3 linked regions of the Homo sapiens genome follow. The protein of the gene in region 2 purifies or fractionates together with the protein of the main gene of each other region. This does not show direct contact. Each region holds a gene or a part of one and is shown on either strand. Other genes may lie near its edges.

Region 1 (3,654 bases), on a different chromosome or scaffold from region 2:
CCACCATACCTGGCTAATTTTTGTATTTTTAATAGAGACAAGGTTTCACCATGTTGGCCAGGCTGGTCTCAAACTCCTTACCTCAAGTGATCCACCCACCTCAGCCTCCCAAATTGCTGAGATTACAGGCGTGAGCCACCACACCTGACTTTTTTTTTTTTTTTTTTTTTTTGTATTTTTAGTAGAGATGGGGTTTTGCCATGTTGCCCAGGCTATGCTTGAACTCCTGGCCTTAATCCCTCTCAAAGTGCTGGGATTACAGACGTGAGCCACCATGCCCGGCCTTCCTTACTGTCTTTTAATCTATGAAGATCGTCCATCTTTGCTGTTGATGGTAGTGAAATTTTGGAGGAATACAGGCTAGGTGTTTTGTAGAATGTCCGCAGTTGGCACTTGTCTGGTATTTCCTCTTGAGGAGATTCAGGCTGTGTCCTTCGGGCAGGAGTACAGCATATTCCTGATGTTTGCTATCACTGCATTACGTCACAAGGTACATAATTCTCGTTTTGACTTTTTTTTATTATTTAGCTAAGGCAGCATCTGCCTCTTTTCCCCACTGTATAAAAATACTGGTTCTTCCTTTGGTGGTAAGAAATGGCTGTGGGAAGACATTTTAAGACTATATAAAGATCCTGTTCCTCTTTAAGCTTCTGTCAGTTTCCTTGTGGTTTTCATTTGCATTTCTCATGTGAGAAGTGAGATTGAACATGGCTCTTGTGTTTATAAGCTGTCTCTCTTTCCCTTCACTGTGAGCCTTCACTGCACATAGCTCTTGCATTTTAATCAGTTCCTGCGATTGGAGGGCCCACCACTCTCGATATCTCAACTTACTGCTTGCTACGCAAGGGAGAGCTGGGCTGCAGAGCACAGGCCCTCTACGTGTTGCCGAGCATCATGGGGCTCGGGGATCAGTGACTTTCAGATGCAGGGATGTTGAGGGATTGTTTGGCCTTTGGTTTTGGAAGGTAGACAGTGGGGTGAGGCTGCTGCAGCCTGGCTGACTTCCAGAAGTGTGGCTACTGGTGTGAGGTCGCCATTGGTCCATTAGGAAAGATTTTGTTTTGTTTCTAGTCAATATTCTGCGGAACCATTAGGGAGGGTTTAAACTGGTTCTGGTGGTTAGTTATTTATGGTTTGGGATTATAACCAAACAAGAAAGGACAATCCGTCTCTTCCTTCTTGAATGTGGAGAATTGGAAATTCTTAGTCCAGGCCCTGCCAGGACTCACAGATACATGCCGTGGTCCCAAAGTCTTTTCTTTTCTAGCTCATCTGAGGGGCAGGGTGCCCACTCTTCAGCATCATAGGCCCCAAGCAGGGAGGGTGCCAGGTGCTTTGAAGGAGGTGACGCTGATGTGCACCCCACCAGCTCCCATCTTGAGAACGACTTACATTGACAAAGCCCTTTATAATGTCAAACCACTTTTTAAAAATTCAACTTTTCGGCCGGGCGTGGTGATTCACGCCTGTAATCCCAGCACTTTGGGAGGCCAAGGCGGGTGGATTGCTTGAGGTCAGGAGTTTGAGACCAACCTGCCCAACATGGTGAAACCCCATCTCTACTAAAATACAAAAATTAGCTGGGCGTGGTAGCAGGTACCTGTAATCCCAGCTACTGGGGAGGCTGAGGCAGAATTGCTTGAACCCAGGAGGAGGAGGTTGCAGTGAGCCGAGATTGCGTCACTGCACTCCAGCCTGGGCCACAGAGCCAGACTCCATCTCAAAAAAAAAAAAAATTCAGCTTTTCCATTAAATTTGTGTATGCTTTGTGACATTTCTTCAGATCACATGATTTTTAAAACTAAAATGGGTTTTTATGGTTTTAAATAAAATTACATGTTTAAAAACTGATTATTAAGCTGCACGTGGTGACACATGCCTGTTGTCCCAGCTACTCTGGAGGCTGAAGTGGGAGGATCGCTTGAGCCTGGGAGCCAGAAGTTGCAGTGACCCGAGATCACGCCACTGCATTCCAGCCTGGGTGACAGAGTGAGACCCTGTCTCAAGAAAATAAATTAAATAAAAATAAATAAAAGGGCCCCACAAAATCCAGGTAGGGGGTAACTGATGAACTGATTACCTATTTCAGATTTACGAATCTCAAAACTCTAAGATAGAGATTATGGCATCTAGTCAAATACTATTTGAAATACTACGTACTCTCAAAGTTTTAATAACAAAATGGTAAAAATTATATTGAAGGTTCAGTCTCCTCAGATTCTTAAAGACTTTGTGAATTATATAGGCAGGATTTAAGGATAGCATCTCCACCTAATGAGGTGTAACACTTGCTTGGTTTTAAAACGTCCAGATCAGTTCTTGTTGCTTCCTGAAGCATGGGCTTGGGTCTGCAGCATGTTGGGCGCACAGCATTATGGGAAGGGAAAAGGCACAGGCTGCCGTAGAGCTGGGGTTTCAGAGTGAGACAGATTTGGCATAGAGTCCAGGGACTCCACTTAAAGTCTGTGGGCAGTTGTTCCCTATTTGTCTGAGCCTTTGTTTCCTCATCTGCATTATGGTTTAATAGGCTGTCAGGAAGGCTAAAGGAGATAATGGGCCAGGTGCAGTGGCTCATGCCTGTAGTCCCAGCACTTTGGGAGGCCAAAGCAGGTGGGTCACCTGAAGTCAGGAGTTCAAGACCAGTCTGGCCAGCATGGTGAAGCCCTATCTTTACTAAAAATACAAAAATACAAAAATTTAGCTGGGCGTGGTGGTGGGCACCTGTAATCCCAGCTACTCAGGAGGCTGAGCCAGGAGAACAACCTGAACCTTGGAGGCAGAAGTTGCAGTGAACTGAGAATGTGCCTCTGCACTCCAGCCTGGGTGACAGAGCGAGACTCCATCCAAAAAAAAAAAAGAAGATAATGCGAGAAAGAGACATTGTCTGGTACCTGGCACATACGTCCTCAGCTAGTGGTTGCTGTGATGAAGAGGTCGGAAGAATCTGATCATCTTTTACCTCTACATACTTAGCAGATCAAATTCTTCATGCTAATCATTTTAACAACTGGATTAGTTAATTGTTTTTTAATGTTCCCCTTTTATTAGGAAAAAGTGCCCAAAAAGTTTAGTGGTTTTTTACTTTAAAATACAATTTAAGAATAATTTCTGACCCACTTATTGTAAATTGAAATGTTTTGTAAATTGAAAACGTACCAAAACCTCATAAGCATCTGCTCTTTTTAGCTTTGTGAAATAAACATCAGGGAACATCTGTCTTTGAATTGTGACCAATATGTATGTGTCCTGAGTGTAATGGTTAAGAGGGTAGGATCTGGAGTCACACTACTTGATGAAGTCCCAGCTCTATCCCTGATTAGCCATGTGAGCTTGGGCAACTTCTCTGTGCCTCAGTTTCCTCGTCTCTCCAGCACGAGGGAGAGAGTGGTAACTCCCTCCTTGAGTTGTCGTGAGGATTATTTATTGCTGCAGTTAAGGTGCTTAGGGCAGGGCTGAGCACAAGGTAAGCATCAGCCCGTTAGCCGGCATTATACTTTGCCTTCTATACTTTGCCTTCTCGACTAGTGATACAAGTTATCTTAATTTAAATAGAATCCATTCTGTACTACTGATTCTTTTTCCCCTTTACATTTTTTTAAACCAAATAAACAATAGCTTTCCATATTCCACAAAAATTGTGTCATATTTGTATCA
Region 2 (3,654 bases):
ACAGTTTTCCAACCTACAAAAGAATCACAAATGGCAACACGGTTGACAGGTCCAACTTCAACCTTCCCGGCTAGCTCCACAAGTGCCAGCATCCAAAAGCCCCTTCTTGTGAACTCCCCACCTTCTATCATGCACTGGTGATCCTATGAAGGAATAGGAATGAGAGAAGAACAAAATTCACAGGCCATCGGCCTGGATCTAAACATGGGAACAGGTGTTCACATCAGCGAGAGGTTCCATACAGCCAAGTCAGGCATGACCATTGCTCGTCTGTGGCCCCAGATCGAAAGCACAGCTGCTCTGTAAGAGAGGAGAGACTTACGACAACCTCTGCAGAAAGCACTTGGGGTGTCTCAAAGTTGTGTACAGCAACTTAGCACCCTCATCCAGAAGCTCATTGTCGGAGAGGTTTACGCACGTCAGGGACTGGTTGACTTCAAGGGCCAAGGAGAGATCAGCCCACTGCTGAGTGGTAGCGGAACAAGACACCAACCTGTGGGAGAAATAGGACCACGTCATTTTTTTTTTTTTTTTGAGACTGAGTCTCACTCTTGTTGCCCAGGTGGCGCAATCTCGGCTCACAGCAACCTCCGCCTCCTGGGTTCAAGTGATTCTCCTGCCTCAGCCTCCCGAGTAGCTGGGACTGCAGGCATGCACCATGCACCAACATGCCCAGCTAATTTTGTATTTTCAGTAGAGGTGGGGGTCTCTCCATGTTGGTCAGGCTGGTCTCAAACTCCCAATCTCAGGTGATCTGCCCACCTCGGCCTCCCAGAGTGCTGGGATGACAGGCGTGAGCCACCGCGCCCGGCAGAACAAGTCATTCTTGAGAATCTAACCGTGGAATCGTCTTTGGTTTACATCTCACTGGTTGTGTTATACCCCGACTTGAATTATCTGGAGCAGCAGTTGTCAAAGGGTGGTCAGACCAGTGGCACCAACATCGCCCAGGAATCAGCTGGAAATACAGAACTTAGTCAATCTGACTCTAATGTTGGATGCAGACTCCGCTAACCTATGTTTCATTGTTTGGTTTTTTGAAAGGGAGTTATTTATGCTCTGTCGCCCTGGCTGGAGTGTAGTGGCGCGATCTCAGCTCACAGCAACCTCTGCCTCCCAGATTCAAGAGATTCTCCCGCCTCAGCCTCCTGAGTAGCTGGGATTACAGGCAAATGCCATCTTGCCTGGCTAATTTTTGTATTTTTTAGTAGAGATGGGGTTTTACCATGTTGGCCAGGCTGGTCTCAAACTCCTAACTTTGGCCGGGGCAATGGCTCATGCCTGTAATCCCAGCACTTTGGGAGGCCGAGGTGGGCAGATCAGGAGGTCAGGAGTTTGAGACCATCCTGGCCAACATGGTGAAACCCCGGCTCTACTAAACATACAAAAGTTAGATGGGCGTGGCGACACGTGCCTGTAGTCCCAGCTACTCAGGAGGCTGAGGCAAGAGAATCACTTGAACCCAGGAGGCGGAGGTTGCAGTAAGCCGAGATCACTCCACTGCACTCTAGCCTGGGCGACAGAGCAAGACTCCGTCTCAAAACAAAAAACTCCTGACTTCAAGCGATACACCAGCCTAGGCCTCCCAAAGTACTGGGATTACAGGCAGGAGCCACCATACCCAGCCCACTAACCTATGTTTCAAGGTGCCCTGTTCATCCGGAAAATGTGTTAGAATAAATTCATAAGAAATGAGTGGCTGGGCACAGTGGCTCATGCCTGTAATCCCAGGACTTTGGCAGGCCAAGGCAGGTGGATCATGAGGCCAGGAGTTTAAGACCAGCCGGAACAACATGATGAAACCCCATTTCTCCTAAAAATACAAGAATTAGCTGGGCGTGGTGGCACATGGCTGTAATCCCAGCATTTTGGAAGATGGATGTCACTTGAGGTCAGGAGTTCGAGACCAGCCCAGCCAACACGGTGAAACCCCGGCTCTACTAAATATACCAAAAATTAGCTGGGTGTGGTGGATTGCCCGAGGTCAGGAGTTTGAGACCACCCTGGCCACCAGCATGGCGTAACCCTGTCTCTACTAGAAATACAAAATACTAGAAATACAAAAATACAGGTGGGTGCCTGTAATCCCAGCTACTTGGGAGGTTGACGGAGAAGAATCACTTGAACCCGGGAGGCAGAGGTTGCAGTGAACCAAGATTGTGGCACTGCACTCCAGCCTAGGAGACAGAGCAAGACTATATCTTGAGAAAAAAAGAAAGAAATTAGTGACCCAAATCTTTAATTCACCCAATATTCCCCCTCACCCTGCATCCCATTATTCTCAGGCAAAAAGAAAAGAGGGTAATTGCAACGGTTAGTAATGATAGCAGCCACTATTGAATGCATGGGCTTGGTTTCATTCAACCTTCCAATACCTGTAAGATGTACAGCATCCTATTCAACTAAGATCCCATTAAGCAGCCTAAGATTGTATCAGTAGAGCCAGAGCAATCAATTTTTTTTCTGTCCTCGAGATGGAGTTTTGCTCTGTTGCCCAGGCTGGAGTGCAATGGCGTGATCTTGGCTCACTGCTACCTCTGCCTCCTAGGTTCAAGCAATTCTCTTGCATCAGCCTCCATGAGTAGCTGGGATTACAGGCACGCGCCACCATGCCCAGCTAATGTTTTTGTATTTTTAGTAGACGTGGGGTTTCACCATGTTGGCCAGGCTGGTCTTGAACTCCTGACCTTGTGATCCACCTGCCTTGGCCTCCCAAAGTGCTGGGATTACAGGCATGAGCTACCGCACCCAGCCAAGATTTTTTTTTTTTTTTTTGAGACAGTCTCACACTGTTGCCCAGACTGGAGTGCGGTGGTGTGATCTCAGCTCACTGCAACCTCCGCCTCTCAGGTTCAAATGATGCTCCTGCCTCAGCCTCCTGAGTAGCTGGGACTACAGGCGTGCGCCAACATGCCCAGCTAATTTTTGTATTATTAGTAGAGACAGAGTTTCACCATGTTGACCAGGCCGGTCTTGAACTCCTGACCTCAAGTGATCCACCCACCTCGGCCTCCCAGGCGTGAGCCACTGCGCCTGGCCCAGGGCAATAATTTGAGGCCAATGACCACCTACTACACCAGTGTGGCCAAGTGAGGCTTCATGGAACCCCATGATGCATGTAGGTTCTCATCGCCTGGGCAGCCACTGGACAGCTTCCCAAGGGGAGAGCTCTCAAACCAGAGGACTAACAGAAAAGGGGCAACTTGATGTTCCTGAAGGGTTCTTGCTTGAAAAATGTCAATAGCTGGTATTCTGAATCATCATACAGGAGAAGCATGAACCATGAGTGAATGATCTCTGATAGAAGATAAAGATTCTGGGCTGGGCACGGTGGCTCATGCCTCACTTTGGGAGGCCGACGGCGGGGTGGGGTGGGGGTGGGGGGGTAGATCACCTGAGGTCATGAGTTCGAGACCAGCCTGGCCAATGTGGTAAAACTCCATCTCTACTAATAATACAAAAATTAACCAGGTGTGGTGGTGTGCACCTGTAATCCCAGCTACTCAGGAGGCTGAGGCAGGAGAATCACTTGAACCTGGGAGGTGGAGGCTGCAGTGACCTGAGATCATACCAACGCACTCCAGCCTGGGTGACAGAGCGAGACTCCATCTCAAAAAGAAAAAAGAAAAAGAAAAAACCAAAACCAAAACCAAA
Region 3 (2,572 bases), on a different chromosome or scaffold from region 2:
CGCAGTGGCGCAGTCTTGGCTCACTGCAACCTCCACCTCCCAGGTTCGAGCAATGCTCGTCTCAGCCTCCCAAGTAGCTGGGACTAAAGGCGCCTGCCACCATGCCTGGCTAATTTTTGTATTTTTAGTAGAGATGGGGTCTCATTTTGCTGGTCAGGCTGGTCTTGAACTCCTGAGCTCAGATGATCCACCCACCTCAGCCTCCCAAAGTGCTAAGATTACAGGCGGGAGCCACTGCGCCTGGCCTGGTTTTTATGTTTTAATTTAAAAATATTGTTTAGATAGAGATAGGGTCTTGCTGTGTTGCCCAGGCTGGTCTCAAACTCCTAGCCTCAAGTGATCCTCCTGCCTCGGCCTCCCAAAGTGCTGGGATAAGAAGTATGAGCCACCACGCCCAGCGAGAAGCATAATTTGAACTACGTGACAGCTTCAAAGGGAGGCTAGAAATCACTGTCATGAAGTCCACACTGTGGGAGTGAAAGGATGGGCAGGCCCAGCCCACAGTGACCCCACAAGCACTCAGCCACCACCCCCACCCCGGCCCGCAACCTTCAAGAAGGAAGCACTCAGATACCAACAGGACATATTTCAAATAGTTTAATTTTAAAAATATTCTATTCAGTGCTAAAATATGTCTTCACTCACTGTTGCCCATTTCCATTTTCTTAAACTTTTTTGAAACAAAAAATAAAATCACAAAGTTCAATTCAACATGCAGATTTCAAAGAAAAGGGAGCTTTCTAGAAACTGAGCTGAAGGGGTACTGTGGGGGATGGGTACTGTTGTCAGAACCTCAAATTCTTGCTGGGGCAGTTTGTGACAAGAGGCAGGGATGCTGGAATGACAGGTAGAGGTGAGAACAAAGCTGCGTGTGTGCAGATGTGTGTGCTGAGGGCAGGGGATGGGGACGGCGGCCACAAAGGGCTGTCAGCAGCTAGGGTGCCCGTGAGAGGTAGGACCACCTCAGGCATGGGCAGAGCTGGCAGGACAGCAAGAAATCTAGACGGACTCTCTGCCCTTGTGTGGAGAAAAGCCCTTCCCTTCCCTCCAATGTCTCTACCCAGTCCTCCAACAGCAGCCTACAGGGCCCCCAGTCCTAGGGGAAAGTCCGGGAGTCTACAGTCTCCGTTCAAGTTCAAGTAACCTGAGGCACGCTCTCTTCTAGAAGGTGCCTTCCACATCTCTCTCTTCTCGCAGAAGCTGCCAGCAGCTCCGTCCAGAGATTCTGGAGCAGAGACTGCTGCCTGGAGGTCACAGATGAATCTTGGGGTGGCCGATGCTCCAGCCAACTTGGGGTGCAAAAAAGACATGAGCGCTCCTCTTCTCGGGAGCAAGTAGACACAGGTGCCAGGGTCAGGAAGATGATGCTACAGCCCCAAGTCCTACGCCAGCCTTCCAGCCCGGAAGGCTCATGTGTGCAGGCTCTTGACCCCAGTGCTTGCCCTTACCCCAGCAACGCGGCGCGGCCAGAACCAGAATGCAATAAATAGAGGCAGGGCCAGGAGGCGGAGGGCCGGGATGGTGCTAGCTTTCTGACGCCGTCTGCGGCACTGTGGGTTGGTCCACACAGAAGCGCTTCAGGGGCGGGGCACCTGAGTCTTCCTCTTCCTCAACGACCTAGGAGCAGGCAGAGCATGGAATGCCAGGGCCACCCCTCCCAACCAGAACCTTCCCACCCACCCGAATTATAATGGGATGTCCACTCTGCTCCTTCCAGCAGATGATCAAACATCCTCCCCTGCCTACAACCCTGGGACTCATTTCCGGCGCTGCAGATCCAACCCCACATCCACAGTCTTTCCTGGTTTTTTGACTTAGAAACTGGGAAGCCTGGCCGGGCACAGTGGCTCACACCTATAATCCCAGCACATTGGGAGGCTGAGATGGGTGGATCACTTGGGCTCAGGAGTTCGAGACTAGCCTGGCCAACATAGTGAAACCCCATCTCTACTAAAAATACAAAAATTAGCCAGGTGTGGTAGTGGGCGCCTGTAATCCCAGCTACTCAGGAGGCTGAAACAGGAGAATTGCTTGAACCCAGGAGGCAGTGGAGGTTGTAGTGAGCCAGGATCGCACCACTGCACTCTAGTCTGGGCAACAGCGAGACCCTGCCTTAAACCAAAAAAACAAAAAACTGGAAAACTCAAAGTGATTGCTTACCTGTGTCTCTAGTGGAACTGGTTCTTCCTTGGTGAGGGTAGGAGGTTCATCAGCAACTTCCGAGGAGGGCAGGGAGGGCTCTGAAAAGGCAGTAGGGTCGGCCTGAGGGCAGGGCTCCCCTGAGGCCTGGACCTGGGGGAGCTTCCTTAGAGCTGTGTGGAGGTGGCTTGGTGAGGAGGGGAGAATACTGGCCTGAGAAGCAAACATTCATTCAGGGCCCAGCTGGACCAGGTCACAGCCAAGAATGGTGGAAGGGCAAAATACGGCTAGACTGCAGAGGGCCATCTCTGCTGGGCTGGAGATATCTGGAACCGACAAAGCAGCTCATCTTGTCATCCTCTAGCCCAAACATCACAACTCTAACTCAATCTCCCAGTTTTCTGAGAGTTGCTATGAGGACGAGATGAAGTAA

What was found.
Region 1: the proteins of NLRP2 (region 2) and TTF1 purify together in Homo sapiens (affinity purification with mass spectrometry; one large-scale study listed by BioGRID and IntAct). This does not show direct contact.
Region 3: the proteins of NLRP2 (region 2) and BCL7B purify together in Homo sapiens (affinity purification with mass spectrometry; one large-scale study listed by BioGRID and IntAct). This does not show direct contact.

Annotation. Positions count from the first base shown.
Region 1 is NC_000009.12:132,379,280-132,382,933, reverse strand, and holds part of TTF1 (transcription termination factor 1), read left to right. Parts: intron 1-3,654. UniProt on the Homo sapiens protein: Multifunctional nucleolar protein that terminates ribosomal gene transcription, mediates replication fork arrest and regulates RNA polymerase I transcription on chromatin.
Region 2 is NC_000019.10:54,986,861-54,990,514, reverse strand, and holds part of NLRP2 (NACHT, LRR and PYD domains-containing protein 2), read right to left. Parts: intron 494-3,654; coding exon 323-493; exon of another isoform or gene 122-322; intron 14-121; coding exon 1-13. UniProt on the Homo sapiens protein: Suppresses TNF- and CD40-induced NFKB1 activity at the level of the IKK complex, by inhibiting NFKBIA degradation induced by TNF. When associated with PYCARD, activates CASP1, leading to the secretion of mature pro-inflammatory cytokine IL1B.
Region 3 is NC_000007.14:73,535,774-73,538,345, forward strand, and holds the end of BCL7B (B-cell CLL/lymphoma 7 protein family member B), read right to left. Parts: intron 2,241-2,572; coding exon 2,161-2,240; intron 1,618-2,160; coding exon 1,525-1,617; 3' UTR 583-1,524; downstream 1-582. UniProt on the Homo sapiens protein: Positive regulator of apoptosis. Plays a role in the Wnt signaling pathway, negatively regulating the expression of Wnt signaling components CTNNB1 and HMGA1.